Regions from separate parts of the Homo sapiens genome. Here region 1 is linked to region 2. Evidence: fine-mapped expression QTL. A gene starts in region 2. The other region holds a variant in brackets. All regions are shown on one strand. Distances are between the middles of the regions. Region 1 has its middle 64 kb from the start of FAM133A. Region 2 holds the start of NAP1L3 (nucleosome assembly protein 1 like 3).

The links. PIP is the estimated chance that this variant, and not a neighbour inherited with it, causes the effect.
Region 1: its variant is fine-mapped to the expression of NAP1L3 in whole blood (TOPMed, PIP above 0.99).

Annotation. Positions count from the first base shown.
Region 1 is chrX:93,735,984-93,741,366 of GRCh38, reverse strand. No RefSeq gene overlaps it. Among named protein-coding and RNA genes, the nearest start is that of FAM133A, 64 kb to the right of the region's middle. The variant G/A (reference allele first, on the strand shown) is at 2,786.
Region 2 is chrX:93,670,356-93,675,738 of GRCh38, reverse strand. It overlaps NAP1L3 (nucleosome assembly protein 1 like 3), which reads left to right and starts at 2,161. Exons shown (of 1, transcript NM_004538.6): 1 at 2,161-4,809. The coding sequence starts at 2,435. The coding sequence ends at 3,955. It overlaps FAM133A (family with sequence similarity 133 member A), which reads right to left and starts at 1,533. Exons shown (of 4, transcript NM_001171109.2): 1 at 1,465-1,533; 2 at 987-1,058.

The DNA of each region.
Region 1 (5,383 bases), 66 kb before region 2:
GTGAAAATACTATCTACATTGAGAAAGTTTAGGACTGCGAGGGGGATTGTAGAAGATGAGCTTGCGAAGAAATATTAGGGCCAAAAATTGTGCGCTTGACCTTAAATGGTATGCCAAGGAACCAAAATATGAAATGACTTTTACTTGTTTGCATGTGTGTATTCATATGACTCCATGTGTAGCTCTCGATTTGCTTGTCTGTTAGTTTCTATACCTATATAATACTTCTTTATTTAGTAAAATGTGCTATTATTGAAAGTTCCCTTCTGTTTTTAATTATTTTATGTAGCTATCTCTTACCCAATATTTAAACCTTATCTGTGCTGTTCCTCTAAGCTCACACATTATTTCCTCTTGGAAGCCATTCTGACCCAAATACTCAGCCTTCATTTTGAGTTAGGTGGCCCTCTTCTGTAATTCTATAGCCACCTACACTTGGCTCATAACCTTTACCTACACTGTTAACCTTAAATTGTAATGGCACATTTATTTGTTCATTTTCCCTACCAGGCTTGAAAATCTTTGAAGTCAGAGACCAAGTTCTGTTAATTGTTGTACCAACAAGACCAGGCAGGGGACCTAGTGTATAGTGGACATTAAATAAATATTTTGTTAATGAGTTAATGATTTTTACTCCTATCTGACTCATGCATTTCAACAAGAGTTTTCAAAGTCTTGCAAAAGCATTGCTAATGCAGAAGTTTTAGTCAGGTTATGTGTTGAGATATTCTTTAGGTTAAGATTGTAGCTACCCTCTTATCAATGAGTATTACTGCCTCCACATCTTACCTCACTAACTTCAATGTATGCCTTAGTGTTTTACGTATCCATGTAGTACTGTGGTAATGTCCTTCAATCTGTCTCAGAAAGAAAGAAGCATGATCCAAGGATTCTATAAACCTGACATCAGGTACCATCAGAGGACTGAGCAAACCTTCCTTGAATAAGGTCTTTCTTTCATCTATATTTGTATGCTCCAGGTGCTATTTTAGGATACATTTGTTATTAATTTTTTGTCTTTAAATAGATTTTATCTGTGTATAAAATGTCTTCCCAACTTAGACAGTCAGAAGCTTAACATAGAGAAACATGACGGAAGCATAAATTAAAATTTTTAGTCTCTTCTCATATCTTCTTATAGCTACATATATGACACACAACAAAACTTACTGTCTAATTATGTAACTCTGCTGGGTAATTACTTCTCTCATTTAGGCAGAAACTTCTTTCCTGCACAGTGTCATCCTGACCTGAATGATTGTCAAACTGAAAACAATTTTGAAAATGGGAAAATTTAGATAAAAGGGCTATCACAAAGGCAAAAGAAATAAAACAGACAAAACCCTAAAATTGAGATGATTAAGAGGAAAATTGAGAAAACTATTTTGCCTTAAAAATTGTGAAACAGTGTCAGTTCCATGCATGAGGGAACTTATGTAATCAGTGGCCAGAAAGAATAATTATGAATGCTAAGCCTCAGACAATTGCAACTAGCAACTAGTTTTAACAAATACCTTTCATAACTTGTTTTTAACACACTTTTTTGATTAGGCCTTGCCACTCATGCTTGTAATCCCAGCACTTTGGGAAGTCAAGGCAGGAGGATTGCTTGAGATCAGGAGGAGTTTGAGACCAGCCTGGGCAACATGATGAGAACCCTGTCTCTAAAAACCAAAAACCAAAACAAAGAAACCCACAATTTTTTTTTATTGTTAACATAGCTATGGAAGAAACAGAACTGACAACCTCCACAGACATCTGAGCTGGCAGTGAGAACTGCCTGGAGAGCTGGATGAAACAGAACTCCTAGAGAAAGACCAGAGTGTTTGGTACCAGAAAGGCTGTAGTTGAGCACTGTCATGGGTTCCCATCCCCTAGGAAGATTGAGCCTTTGTTAGCTGCTGGAACTGGACAGAACAGGGCCATCTTGCCCATGGGATGAGGCCAGTCTGATCTGAACACTCCCTCATTTGCCAGCTTTTCCCAGGGTTTCTCTCTGGACATACCTGCTTGCAGCATGGCCTCAGATCCCTAGCCAAAACATTCACCAGTGCCCACTATTATAGCTCTTTCACAGGCAGACTCTGCCTACCCACCTTTGCAGACAGATCCCCCACTACTGCATGCATGGGGGCCCACCACTGCCCCACCATAGCACTTTTGATGGCCACACAAATCAGAGGATTATTGCCCATGAACTGAGAACACTTCCATCGCTCCAGTGCAGCAGGTGCTTAAACTCAAGAGTCAGGGAACAAAGCTGCAGGCCTGGTCCTAGCCCCCAGAGTGAGAGTATGCAGCACAAGAGTGCTGAGCTGAGCCTTGGCCTGCTGAAAGCATACAGAAACAAAGCCAATCCACTAAACCCAACTTATACCACAGTTAAACCCTCAAGGGCATCAAAGGATATAAAAGAAAAAAGCACCATCCTAAAGAGAGCAACTCCAAAGATTAAAGAAACATGAGCCCACACAGATGAGATACAACCAGCACAAGAACTCTGGCAACTGTAAAAGCCAAACTGTCTTCTTACTTCTAAATGACCCCACTAGCTCTTGAGCAATGATTTCTAGCCAAACTGAAATGGCTGAAATTACAAATGTAGAATTCAGAAACTGAATGACAAGGAAGCTCACAGAGATATAGGAGAAGGTTGAAACCCAATCCAGGGAAAAAAGTAAAATGGTCAAAGAGTTGAAGGATGACATAACCATTTTGAGAAAGAACAAAACTGAACTTCTAGAAATGAAAAATTCACTACAGGCATTTCAGAATGCAACTGGAA[G/A]CATTAATAACAAAATAGACCAAGCTGAGTGAAAAATTTCAGAGCTTGAAGACTGCTCCTTCAAATCAATGCAGACAGATAAAAATAAAAAGAATAATTTAAAAAATGAAAAAATCTCTACAAAATATGGGATTATATCAAGGGTACAAACTTACAATTCATTGGCATTTCTGGAAAAGATGGAGAGACAGCGGGCAACTTGGAAAACATATCTGATAATATTGTCCATGAAGATTTCCTGAACCTTGCTAGAGAGGTATATATGCAAATTCAGAAAATTCAGAGCACTTCTGTGACATACTATAATGGATGGCTATCCCCAAGGCACATAGTCATCAGATTCTCCAAAGTCAGTGCAAAAGAAAACAGCAACAACAAAATTAAAGCCAGCTAGAGAAGAGGGGTAGGTCAAGTACAAAGGGAACCTCATCAGGCTAACAGTGGACCTTTCAGCAGAAACCTTACAACCCTGAAGAGATTGAGGACCTATATTAAACATCCTTAAAGAAATTCCAAGCAAGAATTTCATGTCGAGCCAAACTAAGTTTCATAAATAAAGGAGAAATATGATCCCTTTCAGACAAGCAAATGCTAAGGGAATTTTTTACCATTAGACCTGCCTTACAAGAGGTCCTTAAGGGAGTGCTAAACAGGGAAATGAAAGACTGTTACCTGCCACCACAAAAACACACTTAAGTACATAGCCCACTGGCACTATAAGGCAACTATGCAATCAAGTCCAAGTCTACAAAACAACCAGCTAACAATATAATGACGGGATCAAATTCCCACATATTAAACTTGAATGTAAATGGACTAAATAACCACTTAAAAGACACAAAATGACAAGTTGGATAAAGAAGCAAGACCCAACTGTATTCTGTTTTCAAGAGGCCAATCTCACATGCAATGACACCCATAGACTTAAGGTAAAGAGAAGGAGAAAGATCTATGAAGCAAAGAAAAAAAAAACAAAAAGATCAGGAGTTGCTACTCTTATTTCAGACAAAACAGACTTTACACCAACAATAATTATGAACAAAGAAGGGCATTACATAATGATAAAGAGTTAAACAAGAAGACTTAACTATGCTAAATATATATGCACCCAACAAAAGAGCACCCAGATTTACAAAACAAGTTCTTAGAGATCTCCAGAGAGACTTAGATAACCACACAGTAATACTGGGAGACTTCAACACCCTACTGACAGTGTTAGATCATTGAGAGAGAAAACTAGCAAAGATATTCATGACAGACCTAACAAGCATCTACAGAATACCCCACCCATCAACAGAATCTATATTCTTCTAATCTGTGCACAGCACATACTCTAAGATTGACCACAGGCTCAGCCATAAAGCAATTCTTAACAAATTCCAAAAATAACAAAATCATGCCAACCACACTCTCAGACAACAGTGCAATAAAAATAAAAATAAAAATCAATACCAAGATCTCTCAAAACCATACAATTACATGGAAATTAAACAACCTCCTTCTGAAGGGTTTTTGGATAAAGTATAAAATTAAGGCAGAAATGTTAAAAAATCTTTGTAACTAATAAAAACAAAGATACTACACACCAGAATCTCTGGAACACAGCTAAAGCAATTTTAAGAGGAAATTTAACAGTGCTAAATGCCTATATAGAGAAGTTAGAAAAAGTTCAAATTATAATAACAACATAACAGCTCATTTAGAAAAATAGAAATAAAAGAACAAAGCAACCCAAAAGCTAGTACAAGAAAAGAAATAACCAAAATCGGAGCTAAATTGAATAAAATTGAGATGTGAAAAACTATACAAAAGATGAGTGAAACCAAATCTTATTTTTTGAAAGAATAAATAATATTGATAGACTACTAGCTGGACTAATAAAGATCAAAAGAGAAGATCCAATAAACAGAATCATAAATGACAAATGTGGCATTACCACTGATCTCACAGAAATACAAAAAAAAAAAAACAAAACAAAACTCTCAGACTATTATGAACAACTCTATGCACAGAAACTAAGAAACTTGCAAGATATAGGCAAATTCCTGGAAAAACACAACCTCCCAAAATTGAATCAGGAAGAAATTGAAATCCTGAACAGACCAATAACAACTTCTAAAATTGAATCAGTGATAAAAAACCTTACCAACCAGAAAAGGCTCTGGAACAGATGAATTCACAGCCAAATTATAGCAGACATATAATGAAGAGCTGATACCAATCCTACAGAAATTATTTCAAAAACTTAGAAGGAAGGATTCCTCTGTAATTCCTTCTATGAGTCCAGCATCATTTTGACACCAAAACCTAGCAGAGATACAATGAAAACAGCAAATGTCAGACCCATATCCCTAATGAACATAGACACTTAACTTTTTAACAAAATACTAGCAAATCAATCCAGCAGCACACCAAATAGTGCACCATGATCAAGTAGTCTTATTCCTGGGTTGCAAGGTTGATTCAATATATGCAAATCAATAAACATGAGTCATCACTTAAGCAGAACCAAAAACAAAAACCATATCGTTATCTCAATAGATTCAGAAAAGGCTTTCAACAAAATTTAACATCTCTTCATTTAAAAAGCCCACAACA
Region 2 (5,383 bases):
AGTTGAATAACAAAAAAATGAACTTTATGCACTGTTGGAACTGTAAATTGTGATAATAATTCTGCAGAGAGTTTGGCAATATGTATACAATAATAATTTCATAATATGAAATGATCATCCCCAAGCCATCCATTTCTAGGAATTTATCTTATGACCAATTTTCACAAGTGCATAGAAATACATGCTTTAGGTATCCAGGGACACTTTGATTATAGCAGGAAAATAGTATGTATTTAAGGGGAGAGATGGTATAGAAATGGCCACCCTATAACAGGAATCTGGTCAAATAAATTAAGGCAATTATTTCCATGGAATATGCACTTACTTAAAAATAAGATGTCGATCATTTGCCATGAAAATATAGCCATTAGTAATTGATAAATTAAATGAAAAGATTACAAAACATAATATGGTGTCACATAGATAAAGCAGTATACATAAATAGGCAGGTATGTATATGCACAAGGAAATTTCTGGAAGGAAGTGCATCAAAATGCTAGTAATTCTTATCATTTGGTGGTTAAGATTTTGTGTTTTTACTACTGTTGGAATTTTCTATATTGTTTTATCTTTGCAATGTTCACAGACTTTGACAATTAGAGATAAACAATAAAAGTAAATGCATTTATGAAACAGAAAAGCGTTTCCTAACTTTTAAAAAACGTGATTACATGACAAAGCACAAATTCTATAAAGATTAATCTAACTTTAATACATTTCCTCATTTGAAATGAATAATTTATCATATTTCATATTTTAATTTACCACTTGTATTCTATGACCAGGTTTAGATAGTTAATGCGGTTAAGTATGTAATTGTCTACATTAGTATGCCAAATTACCTCTGTGGATTTTCCTGTTTCCATAGAATTATCAAGATAATTCTCTAAAATAAATCTTTAAATGACTGTATCCTGTAAACTTTTATTCAGATGGAGATGAGTAATTTTTGTCATTCTTTAAAATGTGCTAAATATGATCCTTACCTTTCAATGAAAAGTAAATACTCGTCTTTTTTATTGTACCAAGGGAGTTGTTCTGTAGCAGAAAAAAAAATCCTGTAAATAAAAATAACAAATACTCGTTTTTAAACTTCATTTTGCAAAAGTTTATTCACATATTACTGGACTTGTAAATCATACTATAGTATGGCTAGAATTTTACAACATTAGAAGGAAATTGGTGGCAGATGACATCGCATACACTGACAGAAGATGCACATTCATTAGCACAAATTCCCCCTCCCATCCCACTGTTCTTGGAATTGAAACCTGCTGCACAAAAGTATAACGCAAATCATTTGCTTTTTAACAATACTACCTAACATTTAATACCTCTTTGTTTTATCTACAAGGTTGTTACAAGCATTGAGAAGGGCTACGTGGCAAGTTAGCAGCAAGGTTGGGGTATATAATATGCCAGCCTAAAAAGAGAAATATAATAAAAATGGTGTAACTGACTCACGGCAACATGGGTTCGCAAACCTTGTAGATGGATATAAACCAGGCTTGCCAAACATCACAGACAGCACTTATTAAATCAGCTTCGTGGAATGCAATACGCCTGCTGTCTAGTCCCTCCCTCCTCTGCCAATAACCGACTCTCCCCTTTTTTATCCAGTGTAAAAATGCATGCTCATAGAATATTTAGAGAAAATCGTTTTGTTTTTAAATCGTCCATAGTCACACTACCCAATGACGCCATTTGGACCATTTTCATTCAATTTTTTTTTTTTTTTTTTTTTTTTTTTACAGCTTTTTGTCAAGAGACCCGTGACAAACTAAACGGGAATTCAGGGTGGGCGGATGGGAGAAGGAAGACACGCCTCTTTTGCCCTTGTTAGGAACTATGGCTGGTATTTTTACCTCATGTCTACGCTTTTTTTTCTTTTTTAATTATAAAACTATAAATATAGACTTTTTGGGGGGCAGGGGGACACCTTCCAAGGGGTCGCACCTCAGCCAGCGAGCGGCGTCTGGGAAGGTGGGCGGAGCCAGGAGTAGTGGCGTTTGGCCGTTCGTTGGGCGTACAGTTTGTCAATTAAGGTGGACCAGCAAATGAGGAGCGAACTAAAGGCACACTGGGAACGAAATTAACGGGAGGTCTGACTGCAAGGGGAGGGGGCTCGCGATCTAAAACGAGAAGAGATCTCGGGGTCTCATACTGCGCCATTCGGCTGCGGTACATCTCGGCACTCTAGCTGCAGCCGGGAGAGGCCTTGCCGCCACCGCTGTCGCCCAAGCCTCCACTGCCGCTGCCACCTCAGCGCCGGCCTCTGCATCCCCAGCTCCAGCTCCGCTCTGCGCCGCTGCTGCCATCGCCGCTGCCACCTCCGCAGCCCGGGCCTCCGCCGCCGCCACTCAAGCATCCGTGAGTCATTTTCTGCCCATCTCTGGTCGCGCGGTCTCCCTGGTAGAGTTTGTAGGCTTGCAAGATGGCAGAAGCAGATTTTAAAATGGTCTCGGAACCTGTCGCCCATGGGGTTGCCGAAGAGGAGATGGCTAGCTCGACTAGTGATTCTGGGGAAGAATCTGACAGCAGTAGCTCTAGCAGCAGCACTAGTGACAGCAGCAGCAGCAGCAGCACTAGTGGCAGCAGCAGCGGCAGCGGCAGCAGCAGCAGCAGCAGCGGCAGCACTAGCAGCCGCAGCCGCTTGTATAGAAAGAAGAGGGTACCTGAGCCTTCCAGAAGGGCGCGGCGGGCCCCGTTGGGAACAAATTTCGTGGATAGGCTGCCTCAGGCAGTTAGAAATCGTGTGCAAGCGCTTAGAAACATTCAAGATGAATGTGACAAGGTAGATACCCTGTTCTTAAAAGCAATTCATGATCTTGAAAGAAAATATGCTGAACTCAACAAGCCTCTGTATGATAGGCGGTTTCAAATCATCAATGCAGAATACGAGCCTACAGAAGAAGAATGTGAATGGAATTCAGAGGATGAGGAGTTCAGCAGTGATGAGGAGGTGCAGGATAACACCCCTAGTGAAATGCCTCCCTTAGAGGGTGAGGAAGAAGAAAACCCTAAAGAAAACCCAGAGGTGAAAGCTGAAGAGAAGGAAGTTCCTAAAGAAATTCCTGAGGTGAAGGATGAAGAAAAGGAAGTTCCTAAAGAAATTCCTGAGGTAAAGGCTGAAGAAAAAGCAGATTCTAAAGACTGTATGGAGGCAACCCCTGAAGTAAAAGAAGATCCTAAAGAAGTCCCCCAGGTAAAGGCAGATGATAAAGAACAGCCTAAAGCAACAGAGGCTAAGGCAAGGGCTGCAGTAAGAGAGACTCATAAAAGAGTTCCTGAGGAAAGGCTTCAGGACAGTGTAGATCTTAAAAGAGCTAGGAAGGGAAAGCCTAAAAGAGAAGACCCTAAAGGCATTCCTGACTATTGGCTGATTGTTTTAAAGAATGTTGACAAGCTCGGGCCTATGATTCAGAAGTATGATGAGCCCATTCTGAAGTTCTTGTCGGATGTTAGCCTGAAGTTCTCAAAACCTGGCCAGCCTGTAAGTTACACCTTTGAATTTCATTTTCTACCCAACCCATACTTCAGAAATGAGGTGCTGGTGAAGACATATATAATAAAGGCAAAACCAGATCACAATGATCCCTTCTTTTCTTGGGGATGGGAAATTGAAGATTGCAAAGGCTGCAAGATAGACTGGAGAAGAGGAAAAGATGTTACTGTGACAACTACCCAGAGTCGCACAACTGCTACTGGAGAAATTGAAATCCAGCCAAGAGTGGTTCCTAATGCATCATTCTTCAACTTCTTTAGTCCTCCTGAGATTCCTATGATTGGGAAGCTGGAACCACGAGAAGATGCTATCCTGGATGAGGACTTTGAAATTGGGCAGATTTTACATGATAATGTCATCCTGAAATCAATCTATTACTATACTGGAGAAGTCAATGGTACCTACTATCAATTTGGCAAACATTATGGAAACAAGAAATACAGAAAATAAGTCAATCTGAAAGATTTTTCAAGAATCTTAAAATCTCAAGAAGTGAAGCAGATTCATACAGCCTTGAAAAAAGTAAAACCCTGACCTGTAACCTGAACACTATTATTCCTTATAGTCAAGTTTTTGTGGTTTCTTGGTAGTCTATATTTTAAAAATAGTCCTAAAAAGTGTCTAAGTGCCAGTTTATTCTATCTAGGCTGTTGTAGTATAATATTCTTCAAAATATGTAAGCTGTTGTCAATTATCTAAAGCATGTTAGTTTGGTGCTACACAGTGTTGATTTTTGTGATGTCCTTTGGTCATGTTTCTGTTAGACTGTAGCTGTGAAACTGTCAGAATTGTTAACTGAAACAAATATTTGCTTGAAAAAAAAAGTTCATGAAGTACCAATGCAAGTGTTTTATTTTTTTCTTTTTTCCAGCCCATAAGACTAAGGGTTTAAATCTGCTTGCACTAGCTGTGCCTTCATTAGTTTGCTATAGAAATCCAGTACTTATAGTAAATAAAACAGTGTATTTTGAAGTTTGACTGCTTGAAAAAGATTAGCATACATCTAATGTGAAAAGACCACATTTGATTCAACTGAGACCTTGTGTATGTGACATATAGTGGCCTATAAATTTAATCATAATGATGTTATTGTTTACCACTGAGGTGTTAATATAACATAGTATTTTTGAAAAAGTTTCTTCATCTTATATTGTGTAATTGTAAACTAAAGATACCGTGTTTTCTTTGTATTGTGTTCTACCTTCCCTTTCACTGAAAATGATCACTTCATTTGATACTGTTTTTCATGTTCTTGTATTGCAACCTAAAATAAATAAATATTAAAGTGTGTTATACTATAAAAATCTAGCCTTTTCTCCTGACTATAAAAGAGGGATGCTTATCATAGAAGAAAGTAGAGGATCACAAGGAAAAGGACAATTTAATAAAAAGATAACTATTATTAACATTCTGATGTATTTCCCACATCTTAGCTTTTCTGTTGGAGGACACTCATTCAAGATTTTGGAGAGCAATGGAACAAGGAAAAGGAACATGGCATGGAGGGAAAGGAAGGGAAAGGTAGAAGGGGATGGGGATGGGTAAGGGAGGAGGGAGAAAGGAGGGGTGGAGAAGAAAGAAGAGAGGTGAAAAAGGGAAAGGGAGGAAGGTGGGTAGCAGAAGGAATGTGGGGGGGGGGCGGTGGCAAAGGGAACTGGAGAGAAGAGGGGAAGGAGAGCAGGAGTGCCTCACTCACAACACCAGTTATGTAGAAGACAAGCTATGGACCCACCCTTCACCTTGACTTGGAAGGAGGTCACACTACCTTGACTCATTTTTTCTTACAGTGATACCAGGCTCTCATCTCTTCACCATGCAGCTGGTCACAAAGAGATCCTAAGATTTTGGTTTGAGATAAGTGTGAGGAGGTTCTCTCAC